Homo sapiens: one gene and its partners. The protein of the gene in region 1 interacts with the protein of each later gene in a pairwise test. Each region holds a gene or a part of one and is shown on either strand. Other genes may lie near its edges.

Region 1 (5,142 bases):
TAGCTATACTTATATCAGACAAAAGAGATTTTAAGACAAAAACTGTAAGAAGAGACAAACAAGGTCATTATATAATGATAAACAGGTCAATTCAGCAAGAGTATGTAACAATTGTAAATATTATACACCCAACATTGGAGTACCCTGATATATAAAGCAAATATTATTAGAGCTCGAGAGATAAATCTCAATTCAATAATAGTTGAAGACTTCAACACCACCCTTTCATCAGACAGATCATCCAGACATAAAATCAACAAAGAATCATCTGACTTAATCTGCACTATAGAACAAATGGACCTAACAGATATTTACAGACGTTTCATCCAATGGCTGAAGAATACACATTCTTCTCCTCAGCACATGGATCATTCCCAAGGATGGACCATATGTTAGGCCACAAAACAAGTGTTAAAACATTAAAAACAAACTGGAATAATATAAAGTATCTTCTCTGACCACAATGGAATAAAACTAGAAATCAGTTAACAGGAGGAATTTTGGAAACTATTCAAACATATGAAAATTAATCAATAGGCTCCTGAATCATCAGTGGGTCAATGAAGAGATTAAGAAGGAAACTGAAAAATGTCTTGAAACAAATGATAATGGAAACAGAACATACCAAAACCTATGGGATACAGTGAAAACAGTACTGAGAGAAATTTATAGCTTTAAGTGCCTACATGAAAAGAAAAACTTCAAATAAACAACCTAATGAACTAGAACTAGAAAAGCAGAGCAAACCAAACTGAAAGTAGAAGAAATAATAAAGATTACAGCAGAAATAATGAAATTGAAACAAATAAGACATAAGAACAATAAAACAAAAAGTTGGTTTTTTGAAAAGATGTAGAAAACTGATAAACCCTTAGCCAGACTAATGAAGAAAAAAGAGAAAAGATTCAAAATCAGAGATGAAAAAGGAGACATTACAACCAATACTGCAGAAATACAAAGGATCATTAGAGCCTACTAGGAGCAACTATATACCAATAAACTAGAAAATCTAGAAGAAATGGATAAATTCCTAGACACAAACAACCTACTAAGATTGAACCATAAAGAAATCCAAAACCTGAACAGACCAATAACAACTAACAACATTGAAGCTATAATAAAAAGTCCTCCAGCAAAGAAAAGCCTCGGACTCCATGGCTTCACTGCTGAATTCTACCAAACATTTAAAGAATTAACACCAACCCTACTCAAACTATTCTGAAGAATGGAAGAGGAGGGAATACATCCAAACTCATTCTATGAGGCCAGTATTACCCTGATACCAAAACCAGACAAAGACATATCAAAAAAAAAAAAAAAAAAGAGAGAGAGAGAGAAAAACCTACAGGCCAATATCCCTGATTAATATTGATGCAAAAATCTTCAACAAAATACTAGCAAACCAAATTCAACAACACATTAAAAAGATCATTCATCATCAACAAGTGGGATTTATCCCAGGGATGAAAGGATGATTCAACATATGCAAATCAATCAATGTGATACATCATTATCAACAGACTGAAAGACAAAAACCATATGATCGTTTCAACTGATACTGAAAAAGCACTTGATAAAATTCAACATTCCTTCATGATTTAAAAAAAAAACCCTAAAAAAACTAGGTATAAAAGGAACATACCTCCACATAATAAAAGCCATGTATGACAGACCCACAGGCAGTATCACACTGAATCGGGAAAAACTGAAAGCCTTTCCTCTAAGATCTAGAACAGAACAAGGATAAAAAATTGACAAACCTTTAGCCAGACTATGAAGGAAGAAAGGAAAAAAGATTCAAATAAAATCAGAGATGAAAAAGGACTGGAATTGCTGTAGTTAGGACTAGAATTGCTCTAGCTAGAGATGAAAAAGGACTGGAATTGCTCTAGCTAGCAGTTAGACATGAGAAAGGAAAAAAAGGCCATCAAAATTTGAAATCAAATTATCCTTGTTTGCAGGTGACATGATCTTATATTTGGAAAAACCTGAAGACTCCACCAAAAAGCTATTTGAACTGGTAAACAAATTCAGTAAAGCTGCAAGACACAAAATCAGCTTAGAAAAATCAGTAGCATTTCTATAAACCAACAAGGACAATCTGAAAAAGAAATCAAAACAGTAATCCCATTTACAATAGCCACAAAGAAAATTAAACACCTAGGAATTAACTGAACCAATGAAGTAAAACATCTCTACAATGAAAATTATAAAATACTGATGACAGAAATTGAAGAGGCCACAAAAAAATGAAAAGATATTCCATGTTCATAGATTGAAACAATCAATATTGTTAAAATATCTATATTACTCAAAGCAATCTACAGATTCAATGCAAATGCCTAGCAAAATACCAATGACATTCTTCACAGAAATAGACAAAATAATCCTAAAATTTAAAGCACAAAAGACCCAGAATAGCCAAAGCTATCCTGAGCAAAAAGAATAAAACTGGAGGAATCACATTAACTGACTTCAAATTATATTGCAGAGCTATATTAACTAAAACAGCATACTACTGCCACCAAAACAGACACATAGACCAATGGAACAGAACAGAAAACCCAGAAACAAATCCACATACTGACAGTGAACTCATTATTGACAAAGGTGCCAAGAACATACATTGGGGAAAGAAAAGTCTCTTCAATGAATGGTGCTGGGATATCCATATGCAGAAGAATGGAACTAGACCCCTATCTCTCACCATATACAAAAATCAAATAAAAATGAATCAAGACTTAAATCTAAGCCCTCAAACTATGAAAGTACTACAAAAAAATTGGGGAAACTCTCCAGGACATTGGATTGGGCAAAGATTTCTTGAGTAATATACCACAAGCACAGGCAACCAAAGCAAAAATAGACAGGTGGGGTCACATTGAGTTAAAAAGCTTCTGCACGGCAAAGGAAACAACAAAGTGAAGAGACAACCCACAGAATGGGAGAAAATATTTGTAAACTACCCATCTGACGAGGGTTAATAGCCAGGATGTATAAGGATCTGAAACAACTTTTTTTTTTTGAGTCTCACTCTGTCGCCCAGGCTGGAGTGCAGTGGCACAATCTCGGCTCACTGCAACCTCTGCCTCCCAGGTTCAAGCGATTCTCCTGCCTCAGCCTCCTGAGTAGCTGGGATTATAGGCACATGCCACCACACTGGCCAATTTTTTATATTTTTGGTAGGAAATCAGCATATTAAAGAGATATCTGCACTCTCATGTTTACTGCAGCATTATTCACAAAAGCCAAGATTTGGAAGCAACCCAAGTGTCCACTGACAGACAAATGGATAAAGAAAATCTGGTACATATACATAATGGAGTACTACTCAGCCATAAAAAAAGAATGAGCTCCTGTCATTTGCAACAACATGGATGGAACTGGAAGTCATTATTTTAAGTGAAATAAGCCAGGCACAGAAAGACAAACATCACATGTTCTCATTTATTTGTGGGATCCAAAAATCAAAACAATTGAACTCATGGAGACACAGAGTAGAAGGATGGTTACCAAAGGCTGGGAAGAGTAACAGGTGGGCTGAAAGGAAGAGGGGATGGTCAATGGGTACAAAAAAATAGAAAAAAAGAATAAGATCTAATATTTGCTAGCACAATGGGTTGACTATATTCAATAATAATATAATTGCACACTTTTAAGTAACTAAAAGAGAATAATTGGATTGTTTCTAACACAAAGGATAAATGCTTAAGATGGTGGCTACCTCATTTACCCTGATATGATTATTATATATTATATGGTGTATCAAAATATCCCATGTAACCCATAAACATACACATCTGTGCACCCATGAAATTAAAAAAATTTTAAATTGTAAAAGTTCATATTAAAAAAAATCTCTACAGACAAGAAAAATATACTAGAAAGACGTGCTCACAAAACAGATAGGAACTATAACCTCTATATTAAAACAAACTAAAATACATGTAAAACTCTGTAAGACATAAACAACATAATTAGAAATAAAACTTGGAAATGAGCTGATAGAATCTAGAAATTAGTAACTTTTAAAAACTAATTATTTCTGAAATGAAGATTAAAGAAGGAAAATGAATGAGTAAAGACTACAGACAATGCCTTAAGAGAAATAGAGATTAAAAGGAAAACAATTTTAAAAAATTAAAAAGAAATGAAGAAGAAATATGAAAATGACAAAGATAGGCAAAGAAGCTCAAACATACACATAATAGTGGTAATTGAAAAAGAAAACTAAAACAACAGAACCAATTAAAAAAACTATAATTCAGGAAACTTTCCTGATTTTAAAATTCATACAGAGCTGCAAAAGATCTATAAAAGACAAAACAACTTTGAAAAAGAACAGGCTGGCCATGGTGGCTCACACCTGTAATCCCAGCACTCTGGGAGGCTGAGGCAGGAGGACAGCTTGAGGCCCAGGAATTCAAGACCAGACTGGGCAACATAGCAAGACCCCATCTCTACAAAAAAAAGATTAGCCAGGCATTGTGGCATGAACCTGTAGTCCTCGCTACTTAGGTGGCTGAGGTGGGAAGACAACTTGAACCCAGGAGTTTAATCAGTGAGCTATGATTGTGCCACTGCACTCTAGGCTGGGTGACAAAGCAAGACCCTATCTCTAAATTAATAAATGAATGAATGAAAAAGAAGAACAAAGTTGAAGGACTAATACTATATCATTTCAAGGTTTATAAAGCTATAGTAATCAAGACAATATAGCATTGATATCAAGATAGACAAACAGATTAATGAAACTAAATAGATTCCAGAAACAGACTCATACATATATGGACAACTAATTTTCACCAAAGATACGAAGGTAATTTAGCAGGAAAAACGATAGTTTTTTTTTTTCAATAAATGATGCTAGAACAATGGGATGCCCATGTACAAAAAAAAGAGAAAGAAACAGGACTTTCAGCCATATCTCACACCATATACAAAAAAATTAAAATGAATGACATAAATCTAAAACTTAAAATCACAACATGTCTAGAAAAACACAGAAAAACTGTATGGCCTTGAGTTAGGCAAACATGTCTATGATATGACACCAAAAGCATGATACAATTCAAGAACAAATGGGGCTTCATAAAAATAATGTCTGCTCTTTAAAATATAACATTCTGAGAATGAAAAGAG
Region 2 (4,733 bases), on another chromosome or scaffold:
AGCCCCGTCCTTGCGGCAAGGAGGGCTCAGAAGGGACTGTGCTGGGCACCTGGAGTTGGAGCCTTGTAGCCTGGAGGGCAGGAGCTTCCCTGGGTCCGTGGGAGGCTGGTGGCCCCAGGTGGGCTGCAGGGACAGTGGGGATGCAAGGGCCTGGACCCCACAGGGGAGGCAGTGGTGCTGCCGGGGTGGCTGAGAAAGGCCTGGGAGCTGGGCTGTGCTCGGGGGACCCACCCTGTTGCTGCACCTTTTGTGGGGGGGCGGGGCGTGCCCCGTGTCCTGCTGACGCCTGTGTCCTGCTGACGCCCCTCTCCGCAGAAGTCGGCCAGAGCAGCATGTGGATCTCCACTGATGCCGCCGCCTCGGTGCTGGAGCCTCTGAAGGTGGTGTGGGCCAAGTGCAGCGGCTACCCCTCCTACCCGGCACTGGTGAGTACGGCTCTCGTGGCGCCTGCGGGTCCAGAGGAGGCTCACACAGCTGCGGGGCGGGGGTGGTCCGAGGAGGCTCACGGCGGTGGTCCAAGGAGGTTCCACAGCTGGCGGGGGGGCGGGGTTGGTCAGAGGAGGTTCACACAGCTGGAAGGGGCAGGGGTGGTTCGGCGAGGGGGGCGTGGGGGTGGTCTGAGGAGGCTCACACAGCTGGGGTGGGGAGGCGGGGGGGGGTGCCAGTGACAGGTGGGGTTGTTTATGGGTGTGAGCCTCACAATGACCTCAGCGGGTCCTTCTCGTGCAGATCATCGACCCCAAGATGCCCCGTGTGCCTGGCCACCACAACGGCGTCACCATCCCGGCCCCACCCCTGGACGTGCTGAAGATTGGGGAGCACATGCAGACCAAGTCTGATGAGAAGCTGTTCCTCGTTCTCTTTTTTGATAATAAGAGAAGTTGGTGAGTTGAGAGGCCTTAGACTCCGGGGACCGGCTGGGGTGGTTGGGGGCCGTGGGCTCGGTGACCTGAGTGTCCCTGTGGTGAGCAGCGTCTTTGTCTGCTGGGCCCTGGCACAGCTAAAGTCGGAGGTGAGTGCTCCGCTGTTTGCCTGGTGGAGAAGGGCACTGCCCAGCCCCCTCGCCGGGACTGTGGGACGGGCACTGAGCACCGGGTCTGTCTCTGCCCGATGGCTTCCTCTCCCTCTCGCCTGAGCCCCATTGGTCTGGACTGTCTCTTCCCTACTCCTTACCCATGTGTCCGCTCCAGTGTTGGGGGTCCCTCTGCTGTGCTCCCGGACCCCTGTACTGCAGGACATGGCCCCTGCCCGGGCCTGGCCTCTGGCCCTGTTCTTAGAGCCTTCTGTCCCAGCATCATCCAGCTCTGCTCAGACATCCACCCCATCACAGGAGGCTCCCCCTGTGCCCTGAGCTGCTTTTCCCCAGAGCGTCTGGGACCCTCATGTGCCAGGGTTTAGACCCCAAGATCCCTCTGTGCAGGACACGCTGGCAGCACATGCCTCTGGGAGGAGCTGTGGCCCCGGCTGTGCCCTGCGCACGTGGCCCGGGCAGGTGCTTCCTGGTTCCCCGTGGAGCTGGCTGCACTTGGGACCTGGCGCAGGGGCTCGGGGCCACCTGCCTATGGTGTGCCTGGAGCAGGACTGGCAGCACAGGCATCCCTACCGTCTTTCTCTTCCTTGCCTCGACCTCTGCCTCTTTGGCCACGTGGCCACTGCTTCTTGTCAGGCCTTGAGCGAGGCCCACACCTTGTCCATCCGAGGGCCCCTTTGATGGGGTCTCCCCAACCACCGGCCTCTGCTCCAGGGCCCACCCTGACTCTGGGCTTGGTGTGTGCATGTCTTGTCACTAAGCAGGCACTGGGAAACGTTTTGGAGGTGGAGGAGGAGGTGATGGTTTTTATGCCTTACTTAGCTCCCCGTATCCCCAAGTCGGGGAGGGGAAGGGAGGGGTGCACTCCTGGCCTCGGGCCTGTCCCTGCACGGGGCCCAGCTGTCTTGGTGGTGCTGAGCAGGGCCCCTTTCTATCGGAGGGCAGTGAATTTGTTAGATGATTACATGGAGCCTGCTGAAATACCATGTGCAAGCAATGATTTTCCGCTTGTTTTTCCTTTTAAAAAGGCAGTGGCTTCCTAAGTCCAAAATGGTTCCCCTTGGTATTGACGAAACTATAGACAAGTTAAAGATGATGGAAGGGAGGAATTCCAGCATCCGGAAGGCCGTGCGGATCGCTTTTGACCGCGCCATGAACCACCTGAGCCGCGTCCACGGGGAGCCGACCAGCGACCTCAGTGACATTGACTGACGGCCCGGCCGCCAGCGCGGGTCTTGTCCATAGTGTTGATAAGCTGTACATGTTTGTATATTGTTCAAAACTTAACTTATTCTGATTTTTAGTTATAGCTCTTTAATTCTTTTTCCCCGGGGAGGGGGGAGGTTTTATTTCCAAGTTTTCTAGGAACCCATCTCCGTCTGGGCGCTGTGAGTGGGGTGGGCACGTCCGGGCAGCCCAGTGCGTCTGTCGCACGTCCCCAGGCCGTGCTGCTGGCGTCACTTTCTTTGATATGTAGCTTTTTCTTAAAGACTTTTGAATGTTTAATAATTTTGTAAATCATGCTCTTTACACAGAGTACCACTTATTTAATAAGACGGGATGTAAATTTACAATGACAAATGTGTATTTTAAGAAAGAAAATGACATTATTTTGAATGGTACTTTGTGGAAAGAGGGGAGAATAAAGTTATGCTGTGTACATCACTTGCAGATCACCAAAAACACTCCGCTGCCCGTGACCGCCGGTGGGTGTGTCCCCGCTCCCGTCGTCCCGCCCACCTCAAACCCCGCAGGTGTGCCTCCCAGCGGATTATTTATTGTAGAAAGTGTATTCATTTGCTTTATAATGAAAAATACATTTGCAAAGGTATATTGATATGCATTTTTATACAGGCACATAAAAATTCAACTTGGCTTGGGAGCAGAATGCATTGCATTGTATAAATGACTCTGGCCTGTGTGTACTTTGATTTTATAACTTGTAATCTTTTGTTTACAATGAGGGGCTTTCTGTAACTTGTTTTAATTTAGAACACTTTGGTAGCAATAGAAACTTTGGATACATTTTTGTATGGTACCTGTGATGTATATAGAATTAGTACTTTATTTTTATTTTTAAGAGGTAAAGCATTATGTTGGGGAAAGTAGGGTGGGTTTCCAAATTTGCATTTTTTATATTAAAAATAAAGTCAAGATTTGGACGGTGTGGCCATTTTATTCCTACAGCCCTAGACGGCTAGGTGAGCCCCAAGGACGGGTGGGGTGCTGGCTGCAGGGGGCGGGGACACGCCTTTATCTTGAAAACTGTCATGGGATGGCATTATTTGTTATTTCACCTGATCATATTTTTATTTTAAAACTTCAGTTACATAAAAGTTTTAAATGCTTTTTTTAAGCCTACACCGTTTGTAACATCTCCATAGAAACTTGGAAATCAAGTCTTCCTTAGATAGTTGCTGTCCTGCATCTGGCAGGTGCTTCCTATCTGTCGTGGCTCTCCTTCCCACAGCCAGCCCCGCCCGGCAGGCCCCTCCCCACCACGAGCAGCTGGTGGCCCCCAGGATCACTCACCGCCCACGCAGAAAGGAAGCCCACGCAGAAAGGAAGCGGGTGCAGGAGCCAGGTGGGGACAGGCCGTGGAGCACTCAGGGCTACCACCGAGAAGCCCAGCTAATGGCGGGTGCAGTTTGCACCCCTTCTCTGCCACCCACAGCCTGATCGTGCTGTCGATGAGAGGAATCTGCTCTAAGGGTCTGAGCGGAGGGAGATGCCGAAGCTTTGAGCTTTTTGTTTCTGGCTTAACCTTGGTGGATTTTCACCCTCTGGGCATTACCTCTTGTCCAGGGGAGGGGCTGGGGGAGTGCCTGGAGCTGTAGGGACAGAGGGCTGAGTGGGGGGGACTGCTTGGGCTGACCACATAATATTCTGCTGCGTATTAATTTTTTTTTGAGACAGTCTTTCTCTGTTGCCCAGGCTGGAGTGTAATGGCTTGATAGCTCACTGCCACCTCCGCCTCCTGGGTTCAAGTGATTCTCCTGCTTCAGCTTCCGGAGTAGCTGGGACTGCAGGTGCCCGCCACCATGGCTGGCTAATTTTTGTATTTTTATTAGCAATGGGGTTTTGCTATGTTGCCCAGGCCGGTCCCGAACTCCTGCCCTCAAGTGATACACCTGCCTCGGCCTCCCAAAGTGCTGGGATTAGAGGCTTGAGCCACTGCGCCTGGCCAGCTGCATATTGTTAATTAGACATAAAATGCAAAATAAGATGATATAAACACAAAGGTGTGAAATAAGATGGACACCTGCTGAGCGCGCCTGTCCTGAAGCATCGCCCCTCTGCAAAAGCAGGGGTCAGCATGTGTTCTCCGGTCCTTGCTCTTACAGAGGAGTGAGCTGCCTATGCGTCTTCCAGCCACTTCCTGGGCTGCTCAGAGGCCTCTCACGGGTGTTCTGGGTTGCTGCCACTTGCAGGGGTGCTGAGGCGGGGCTCCTCCCGTGCGGGGCATGTCCAGGCCGCCCTCTCTGAAGGCTTGGCAGGTACAGGTGGGAGTGGGGGTCTCTGGGCTGCTGTGGGGACTGGGCAGGCTCCTGGAAGACCTCCCTGTGTTTGGGCTGAAAGCGCAGCCCGAGGGGAGGTCCCCAGGGAGGCCGCTGTCGGGGGTGGGGGCTTGGAGGAGGGAGGGGCCGAGGAGCCGGCGACACTCCGTGACGGCCCAGGAACGTCCCTAAACAAGGCGCCGCGT
Region 3 (5,142 bases), about 82 Mb from region 1:
GCATGTATAAGTACCAATTATCATTACTTTCAAATAATAATAGCTAGTACTTACACAAATATAAGGTTGAGGGAAAAAATGTCTGCAACTCTTTAACACAAGTAGAGATTTTTAATAACATGTAAGGAAGGTAGACATTTCAAAGGAATGTTAAGCTCAATAGTAAGCTTGTAAAATATTACTTTCCTGGTATCCTTTTTATGGTTTCAGTCACTGAGGAAATAATTTCAATAAGAGGTGTAAAAGCTGCAGCAGAGTATTTAAAGTTTCAGATGCTGCCATACTTTATTTATTTTTATGTATTTATTTATTTTTTTTTTTGAGACAGAGTCTCACTCTGTTGCCAAGGCTGGAGAGCAGTGGCATGATCTCGGCTCACTGCAACCTCTGCCTCCCGGGTTCAAGAGAGTCTCCTGCCTCAGCCTCCTGAGTAGCTGGGATTACAGGTGTGTGCCACCATGCCTGGCTAATTTTTGTATTTTTAGTAGAGATGGGGTTTCACCATGCTGGCCAGGCTGGTCTTAAACTCCTGACCTCGTGATCCGCCTGCCCCGGCTTCCCAATGTGCTGGGATTACAGGCACGAGCCACTGCGCCTGGCCGCCATACTTTATTTTTAAGCAAGGTTCACAAACCATCAAATATTACCTAATCTTGTAATCCATTAAACATGCATTTATTTGTTCATTCAGAACACAGAGTGTCTGCCATATAGTAGGCCCAATGCAAAGTAGTGAGGATACAGAAATGAAAGACACTCCTTTGCCAGTGTCTTGCACTGAATCCCTCTGAAGAGCAGGTGTTACAAGGGACTAGGGCTTCCTAGTACAAGAGAAAGAAACAAAAGCAGTTAGGCCATTGGCTGCATTTGATTGCTTCTGGTAACTTTCTGGAGGCTGATAGCTCTTAGATTAGAACACCAAGGCAGAAAAAGTGGATGAGAAGCCTTTTCCGTTGAATCTCTGACATGGTATTTGCACAGTGTGACTGATGGGATGTGTCAGAGAAATTAGCATTTTGCTAGAATGAAGGCAGTGAAGGTTAAATGTTCCAAAGTCTTTAAGCTTAAATTGTTCGTTACATAGTATTGTACAGGCTCACGCCTGTAATCTCAGCACTTTGGGAGGCCGAGGCGGGCGGATCACGAGGTCAGGAGATGGAGACTATGCTGGCTAACACGTTGAAACCCCATCTCTACTAAAAATACAAAAAATTATCCGGGCATGGTGGCGGGCGCCTGTAGTCCCAGCTACTCAGGAGGCTGAGGCAGGAGAATGGCGTGAACCCGGGAGGTGGAGCTTGCAGTGAGCCGAGATAGTGCCATTGCACACCAGCCTGGGTGACAGAGCGAGACTCCGTCTCAAAAAAAAAAAAATTGCTTTGTGAAAGCAAGCCAGAGCCTAAGAAAATTGTCCACTGCCTGCCATGTTGAAGATTCCACTAGTTTCCTCCAGCCATGCAGATAAAGGAATGTCAGCCAGACCCAGAGACCAGTTAGGTGTTTGTTCAGTCCCAATAAATGATGCCACCGTAGCCTCAGAGCTCAATTATTTTGACATTCCAACCTTCTCTTTCTGTTTCCTTCTTAGCTCCCTTGCCTCAGCTCCTATGATAGCTACTGCAGCAATCAAGTAGCCGCCAAAGCTCTGCTGGACCACAAAAAGCAAGATCACCGAGTCCAGGATTTCCTACAGCGATGTTTAGAATCCCCCTTTAGCCGCAAACTAGATCTCTGGAATTTCCTCGATATTCCAAGAAGCCGCCTGGTAAAATACCCTCTGCTTCTCCGAGAAATCTTGAGGCACACACCAAATGATAATCCAGATCAGCAGCACTTGGAAGAAGCTGTAAGTTTGTCTGTTTCCTTCTCTCTCTTCTTGTTATTTCCACCATAATGGCTGGTGGATTGGGTCAGTGGGTGAATGGAAGAGTCCCTGGGTACTTAGTACTCAGGAATCTTGGGTTCCAGGCCTGGCACTGCCATCAACCATGTTTTGATTTTGCAAGTCACTTCTCATCTTTCTGCCTCAGTTTCCTAAACTGTAAAATGCAGTGCTTACATGAAACACGCTGTAAGGTCCCTTAGTAAAATTCTTAATTTTATACAGGTGACTCTAATCTGGTGTTACAGTTGCTGTCTGTGAGGGACAAGATCTTTGTGTATATTTTAAATTTTGTTTAGTTAGAAAATAGTAAGTTGCCTTTTAGCCTAGCCCCAAAACTCATTTGTGAAGTGGACATCCATTTAAAATCTAGCTCCATTTAGCCCCCGATTACAGTGGCTTGCCTTGTCAAACCTCCTGCTCACTAGTGGGATCCTCACTCAGCAAATGTTTGTTGAGTGTGGGCCAGGCACGATGGCTCATGCCTGTAATCCCAGCACTTTGGGAGGCCGAGGTGGGCAGATCACTTGAAGCCAGGAGTTCAAGACCAGCCTGGCCAAAAAAGCAAAACCCTGTCTCTACTAAAAATACAAAAAAAAAAAATTAGCTGGGCGAGGTGGCATATGCCTATAATCCCAGCTACTCAGGAAGGTGAGGCACAAGAATCGCTTGAGCCTGGGAGGTGGAGGTTGCAGTGAGCTGAGATCACGCCACTGCAACTCCAGCCTGGGCAACAGAGTGAGACTCTTGTCTCAAAAAAAAAAAAAAAAAGGTTTATTGAGTGTGGGCTGGGTAATCTGGGAAATATATATTTTTCCCTAGCAGCAATAGAAGACGAGGAAAAATGGGGTGCACATCATGAGAATATTGTAAACTGTGAGCATTCCACCCAGAGAGCACCGTTCTGGTTGAGGTACTCTGCATGGTAGAGATGGCAGATGGCAGGCCACGGGGAGCGGGTGGCCTGAGCAAAGGTATAAGGAAATGACAGGACAGGTCGTGCCTGGGGAATATCATGGATCAGTTGGCCTGGGGTTAGGGGTCCTCTGAGAAAGCAGCAGGAGAGAAGACAGAGGATGTGGGTTCAGATCTGGTTATAGAGGTTTTTAAATATCAATTTAAGAGATTTTTTCCTTTGTCATGCAATTAATTGAAGTTTTTTTTTTGTTTGTTGGTTGGTTTCTAAGTAGCTGGGATTCAGGATTCAAATCCCAGCTCCATCATTTACAAGCTCTGTAACCTTGGACACATACTCTTGGTAGAACAAGGGACTGAGGAGGAAGAGACTGGTGATAGGGATGCAAGTTGGGAGGATGCTGTCCAGGTGTGAAAACCTGATCAAGGAGGTGGCAGTGGGGATAGAGGCTAGCAGACCATTCAAAGGGCTCATTTTCTGATTTAATCTGGGACAATAATAGAAGGAGGATATGCATAGGTAATTTGAAAATCAGAAACCTTGAACCTGCTGAGCAAACTGCCTATTTCCTCCCAGATAGGGGTTTAATAATAAGTAGTAGTAACAACAATCATGGTAATAATTGCTGGCATTGAGTATCTAGTAAATCAACTTTATGTAATTTGCCTCATAGGTTATGTATCTCATTTAACCGTCACAACAGCCTAGGAGATAGCTGTTCTTATTAGGACCATTTTCCAGATGAGGCTTAGAGGGGTTAAATAGCTTGCCCAGGTCCACAGCCAGCAAGTGATGCAGTTGATGTTCAAACCCTGTCAGTGTAGACTCCAAATCCTGTGCCCTTCAACTTCTTTATGATTCTATACCTTGATGCAGAAAGCCTGCCCACTACTTTGAGTTTCTGTTGCCTTTGTAATTGTGGAGAGCTGTCTGGTCACCAGCCTCACTGGTGCAGAACTGGGCTGGGTGCCTCCAAGTAGGATAGAAAAGAAGAATAAAGGACCCTCTTCTGATTCATGAGGTATTCAATGTATCTGGCAGGCCCAACACAGAGATCAGGCCCCCAGTCCAGCACAGATGGGGGACGCAGTCGCTGGGGTTGAGGCCCATCTCACTTCATCATGTCTGTTTTTATTACTGGGAAGAGTGCGATAGAGTTGCCTCCTTTCCATATTTCATCCCAGCAAGTGTGTGGTCTGCAGGAATAAAAACAACAGGGAGCATGAGCTACTCAAAGTCATGACTTTTTTGAAGCATGGGAGCCTGTTCTGAGTTACTGTAAAGATTTCTTTTTAATATGGAGCATGAAAGAATACTGTTCTGTTTTTTTAAAAAATACCCAGTGAGCTAAAGTTTGAATTTAAAAACAGATAAGAATATGATTGTGTGTAATTCAAAATGATGTGCCAGTAACCAGTTTTCCTAGTGCATAAAGTATGAAGCTGTTTTCAAAAGTTCACTCTGCATCTAGTTATTCAGGCAGATCTGTGCATGAAACATGGTATACCTGCATTTGAAAATGTCTGCAAAGCAAGTCTTCCAAATGCCTACTTACACAGTATACGCACAGGATTTTTTTTTTCCCTTTACAGAATCCTCATAGCATTCATTACCCCACATGAACAGAATTATTTAGCCCTGTACTCTTGGGTGCATTATGAATGTTTGATAAACATAAAACATAAAACAAGCACCAATATAGCTTGACAAATATCCCATGAATAAATTTCCCATCAATGAAAAGGGAAAAATCAGAGAGCGCTAAGTAAATTGCTTCCGTTCCAAGAGAGTTGATTGCATTCATACCTATGATTAGATCTAAAAAGAGGTCTTGCCTTTAATGCAGTGCCTAAATTACCACATCTTTATTAGAATTTCATAATAATGCTTTGAGGGTTGATAAAAATTTTTCTCAAAAGAGAACTTCTTAAAATAGGAGTTTGGATATTCAGATATTCCAGAGAACTTGGTTGTTTAGTGTTTTAAATTCTAAGAATTTTTCGGCCAGAAAATGATCCTGCAGAGCATCCCTTCCCCCCACCTCACCACTATTTCTCAACTCCTAAAAAAAAAAAAAATCACTGAAATCAGTGGGAAAAACAGTCCTGCTTTTGATGCAACAGCCGTGAAGACTGCTATTCTTGGTTCATGGCAGGAGCCAGTGAGTATCATGGCACAAGGGACCAGACAGTCAGGGCTTTCAGAGTCCACTTTGAGGATGATGAGTCCAGCACATGTGAGCTTAATCTCTGTACTGTTACCAGGTATCTCTCATCATCTCCCTTTACCAGTCCCTTCCTTCAGTTTGAACCCAGTGAGAGATGCAACAATAAATTTAATTTAA
Region 4 (5,000 bases), on another chromosome or scaffold:
AGAAGGCTGTCTTAGTGCAAAAAACATACTTACATTTCAGACATATCCAAAGGGAATACTCACATTTTGTTAAGAAGTTGAACTATGACTGGAGTAAACCATGTATTCCCTTATCTTTTACTTTTTTTCTGTGACATTTATGTCTCATGTAATTTGCATTACTCTGGTGGATTGTTCTAGTACTGTATTGGGCTTCTTCGTTAATAGATTATTTCATATACTATAATTGTAAATATTTTGATACAAATGTTTATAACTCTAGGGATATAAAAACAGATTCTGATTCCCTTCATTGTGTGAATGTTTTTTTCTAAAAAAAATGTGGAGAAATATGGATAATTATGACATTTATCCCTCATTAAGCTGCCTATCAGTTTGATTTGGACAACTTGACATTTATTTGAGACATTAAGCTACTTTCTGGTAATATATTAGGCATTTCTGCAATAGCTCTTTCAGGTAACTGAATATTATTAAGCATAGTTTTATCTTGCTTTGATTAAACCTCTTAGGCAAAAAATGGAACTTCATAAGCTAATACATTAGAAAGGGGTTATGATTATAAATCAGAAATGCTTGTGACATTAAGAAATGAGGCACTTGTGAAATTTCTTTGAAATAGCCAGCTCCTCTAATGTGTCTTCAAAATATAAAGTGATTCACAAAGGCATGCATCACACCTATTTGTAGCAGCCCATTCATTACATAAACCAGGGCATACCTGTGTGGGCTCTGTGAGTGAAGGGAGGCTTCACTACTTTCTGTGAGCAGTAAGGACTGGTATCTTTCTGTGAGCAATAAGGACTGGATAAAGACTGCATATCCTTGTGTCGTGTCAGCACCAATACAATAAGGAGGGTTTTAATGTGAAGCAGGCAATCTTCCAGCCCCTTCTGGTCTTGGATGAAATAGTTGCACAGAGTATTGCACCAAAAATACACAATGGAGGCTGAAAAGTTCAACATATTTTAAGTCAATTAATCAAATTGCATTGATTCTTGATGCTTTCTTAGAGGCCTACATGATTTCTTAGATTGCTCTGATAAACTATCATAAGGGGTCCACCTCCCCTCATTTAGCTCCCCCAGGGATTTCTTTTCCCCCATGTCATACACCCAGTCCTAAATCAACCCCCAAGGCTATCCTTCCATCCCTTCTGCAGAGGGAACTTTTGTCAGACTCTGCAACAAACTCCTAGCTCTATCCAGAGTGTCCTCTGCTGCTAAGATTGGTATCTTTCTCCTCAAAAGCCTGGATGGTGAATGGGGGTGCATTAGTCAGAATTCTCCAGAGAAACAGAAAAAATAAGATTCGCGTGTGTGTGCAAACATATATATAAATAAATAAAAATATATTTATTTTAAGGAATTGACTCACATGATTTTGAAGGCAGGCAAGCCCAAAGTCTGCAAGGGGTGGGCCAGCAGAGAGCTGGTGCTACAGTGCGGGTCTGAAAGTTGCCAGAGTCCCTTTTATAGAGAAGCTTAAAAAATATTTGTTGAATTAAATGTCTTAGGTAGAGACAAATTGAATTAAAGTGGTTAAGTAAATACTCTTAGGTGAAATTTGTGCAAATTATGAGTATAAAGAGGGTGAGCTACAGAACTCTCCATGACCACTCAAGAATGGGACCCAAAGGCAAATGATAACTTATTCATTCATCAAGGGATAAACTTGAGTTATCAAATGGTTAATAGATAAAGATCCCACTCTGCCTTGGATTTAGCCATCGCAGTCCCTGTGTAAAACCCCACCGGCTTTCAGGCATGGAAAAAAATTTCACAAAGGCCTTGAAAGAAGGCATATGAAGACCAAAAGGATATTGAGCAGGGTTCCATACTTGAATAAAGGAAGAAACTCCCTTCAATGTTTACTAAGAAATAGTTAGAATATAGCATATCCTGTATAGATGAAATGTCCTAGCGAAAATGTTTAAATGTATTTAAAGAAGAGCTAGATTTTGTGGGGGGAGAGAAGGGAATAGGATAGGCTGGTGGGAGGAAGAATGAAAAGAAGAAAACTTGTTGGAAATTTTGGAGTAGATTGTGAGGAGGGGTGACTCACTTTAAAGATGTATCATTTGGAGGTAGACACGATTTTCAGAGCACAAAACAGATAAGGAAAGATGTATGCTGATTGTGTGGAGCCCAAGGGAAGGCGGGGTTTTGGAGTCTTACGTGGCTTTGTTTCTGAAAGGGAGACATGTGAAGCCTACTCCTGAGGCGGGAGGCTGGGGACATGACCATCAAGACCTATAATTGATAAACAACTAGGGGCTGGGTGCTGCACCTACATGCTGGGGAAATAGAAAATGAAGCAGACATGTGTCCCATCTTCTTCCAGCTTTCAGTCTAGCTTGGAAATAAATCTCATACCTAGAGAAAATGGAGGATCTGTGGGATGTAGATGAGGTGGGAGCATGAATGCCTAGGGAGGGAAGAAGAAAGATTTTCAGTTCTTCAGCTTTTCCTCATGACCCTATCTCATGCCATGAGCAATTGTCTGGCATCTCCTGTGGGTTGGACCACTGCTGCATTTCTTACTTGCCAACATCACTTTGTCCCAAATGCCATTCCTTTGTTCCAGGGCCTCCTTGTCTTCCATCTGGGGAACTGGAGGTGAGAAGCATTATAATAGCCTCTCTGCCTTTATCTACAATCTCTCCAACCTGTGCTTTATGCTGATGTCAGGATGGGCGTTGATGGATGCTTCTATCACTGTCGGGGCAGGGAGGGCCAGAACACTAGCATAAGATGTCAATATGTCTATCCATATGTCAGGTCCATACTCAACTCAAGCTTCTGGTTAACTGCTGATCTATTGGCAACTCCAGTTCCCAATAAGTTCCTCATCTCCTTCTGAGACCACCTCAGTGTGGACTTAATCGTCCACATCACTGTCAGCATTTTGGTTAAAACCATTCAACAAGTCTCCAGGAAGCTCCAAACTTTCCTTCATCTTCCTGTCTTCTTCTGAGCCCTCCAAACTCTTCCAACCTCTACCCGTTACCCAGTTCCAAAGGTGCTTCCACACTTTCAAGTATCTTTATAGCAATGCCCCACTCCTGGTACCAAATTCCTGTATTAGTCTGTTTTCACACTGCTATGAAGACATACTTGAGACTCGGTAATTTATATAGAAAAGAGGTTTAATTGACAAAAAAGCTAACAAAGTGAGCCCTGATTCAAAAATGACTGTCTACACTTGGCACATGAGGGACTTTATGATATTAAGAGATTAATTAAACAACAGTGGATGGGGAGGAAGAACAGACTTTTGAGCTCTTCCCAATATAGGAATGTGTTAGTTCTAAAAATTTTCTTAAGTTGTTTGCTTGGAACTCAGAGTATATTTTTCCATACGAAAAATTCAGAACTATTTTATTTATGATATGGGCTAAAAAGACTTCTGTAATCTAGCTTGGAAACTTAATAATCATTAAACTTATTTTCAATGAGATACGACTGTTTAAATTCTGAAACCTGGAACCCTCTGTTGCCCTGCAAATGCTTTAGGAAAAGAAGAGTGTGTCTGATGGAGGATAAGATGGAAAGTGAATATGGATCCATATTCAGAAGACACGGTTGCATTACAGCAAAGGAACAGCTTTTTGCTGGCCATGCTAAGCATTTGACATTGATGTGGGAGAACATGGCATTCAGTATGACTCTGTCTGGATATATATAGTTTTGTAAATTGGGTGTTCTTAAGTTGAGACTGCATGTTTCATTCCAAAATCAATCTTAGTTTTCCCACTTGCATTAGCATATTGTATTAGTCCGTCTTCACACTGCTATAAAGACATACCCGAGACTGGGTAATTTATAAAGAAAAGAGGTTTAATTGACTCACAGTTCTGCATGGCTGGGGAGGCTTCAGGAAACTTATAATCATGGCAAAAGGGGAAGAGGTACGTCTTACATGGTGACAGGGGAGAGAGAGCATGCAAGAGAAGGGAAAACTGCATTATAAAACCATAAATTTTATAGAACCCACTATCCCAAGAACAGCATGAGGGAACCACCCTCATGATCCAATCACCTTCCACGGGGTCCCTCCCTCAACACATGGGGATTTGGGGGATTACAATTCAAGATGAGATTTGGGTGGGGGAACAGCCAAACCATATCATGTATCAATGCTTAAATTCAGTTTATCTGGGAATTTTGAATGATTCCAACTCCTTAGTATAGACATTTACAGGCTTTTGGGCATTATGAAATCGTACTATTTTTAATTTGATTTCACCACTTCTCCTCTGTCTTATAAAAAGCTGACATTGAGCACATGTGTCCTTATAATTTTTAAGGTGAATCAAAAGTAAACCTGTTTTGAGTATTTGGATATAGTTTTGCAGTAGCTCTTGAGGTTACTAGGGTTGCAAAATCAAGTTTGAGAATTATAGTGCTAGATTTATGGGTGAAATGGATTACACTAATTAGTCTGACATTTAGTCACCTTGTTTTAAAAAAGCAAGGCAATATTCTGGCAGTGATATTGAACTCCAGATTTCTTTCCATATACTCACTTATGAAATTTACTTCAACATGGCATACCAGAACTGACTACTAATTTCTTTCCCCAGAATAATTTAAATTCTTTACGTCTCATTGTATTTAGTACTTGTCAGAGCTCCTGGAAGGACAGATAAAAGATAAATGCAGACAATTATTCATTGCTCAGCTTAGGTTCATTTCAGCCGGTCATTCTCTTGACCTTACCCTGGACGTCCTTATTCCCCAGAACCACTCTTCCTAATTCAGAGGAACGTGCGTGGCTCCTAATTTCTGGAGCTAACACCCACTACCACCAGTTTTGAACTCCATGCTCTTTTTTATTTTCCAGATGGAGTCTTGCTCTGTCACCCATGCTGGAGGACAGTGGCGCCATCTCTGCTCACTGAAACCTCCTCCTCCTGGGTTCAAGCAATTCTCTTACCTCAGCCCCCCAAGTAGTTGGGATTATAAGCGTGTGCTACCACACCTGGCTCAATTTTATAT

The links.
Region 2: the proteins of CEP70 (region 1) and BRD1 interact in binary tests that used the Homo sapiens proteins (3 or more experiments, as listed by UniProt).
Region 3: the proteins of CEP70 (region 1) and ARHGEF3 interact in binary tests that used the Homo sapiens proteins (3 or more experiments, as listed by UniProt).
Region 4: the proteins of CEP70 (region 1) and EMP1 interact in binary tests that used the Homo sapiens proteins (3 or more experiments, as listed by UniProt).

What each region holds. Positions count from the first base shown.
Region 1 is NC_000003.12:138,583,157-138,588,298, forward strand, and holds part of CEP70 (centrosomal protein of 70 kDa), read right to left. Parts: intron 1-5,142.
Region 2 is NC_000022.11:49,771,742-49,776,474, reverse strand, and holds the end of BRD1 (bromodomain-containing protein 1), read left to right. Parts: intron 1-315; coding exon 316-425; intron 426-729; coding exon 730-884; intron 885-2,058; coding exon 2,059-2,242; 3' UTR 2,243-3,192; downstream 3,193-4,733. UniProt on the Homo sapiens protein: Scaffold subunit of various histone acetyltransferase (HAT) complexes, such as the MOZ/MORF and HBO1 complexes, that acts as a regulator of hematopoiesis.
Region 3 is NC_000003.12:56,741,909-56,747,050, reverse strand, and holds part of ARHGEF3 (rho guanine nucleotide exchange factor 3), read left to right. Parts: intron 1-1,588; coding exon 1,589-1,846; intron 1,847-5,142. UniProt on the Homo sapiens protein: Acts as a guanine nucleotide exchange factor (GEF) for RhoA and RhoB GTPases.
Region 4 is NC_000012.12:13,216,483-13,221,482, forward strand, and holds the end of EMP1 (epithelial membrane protein 1), read left to right. Parts: 3' UTR 1-3,459; downstream 3,460-5,000.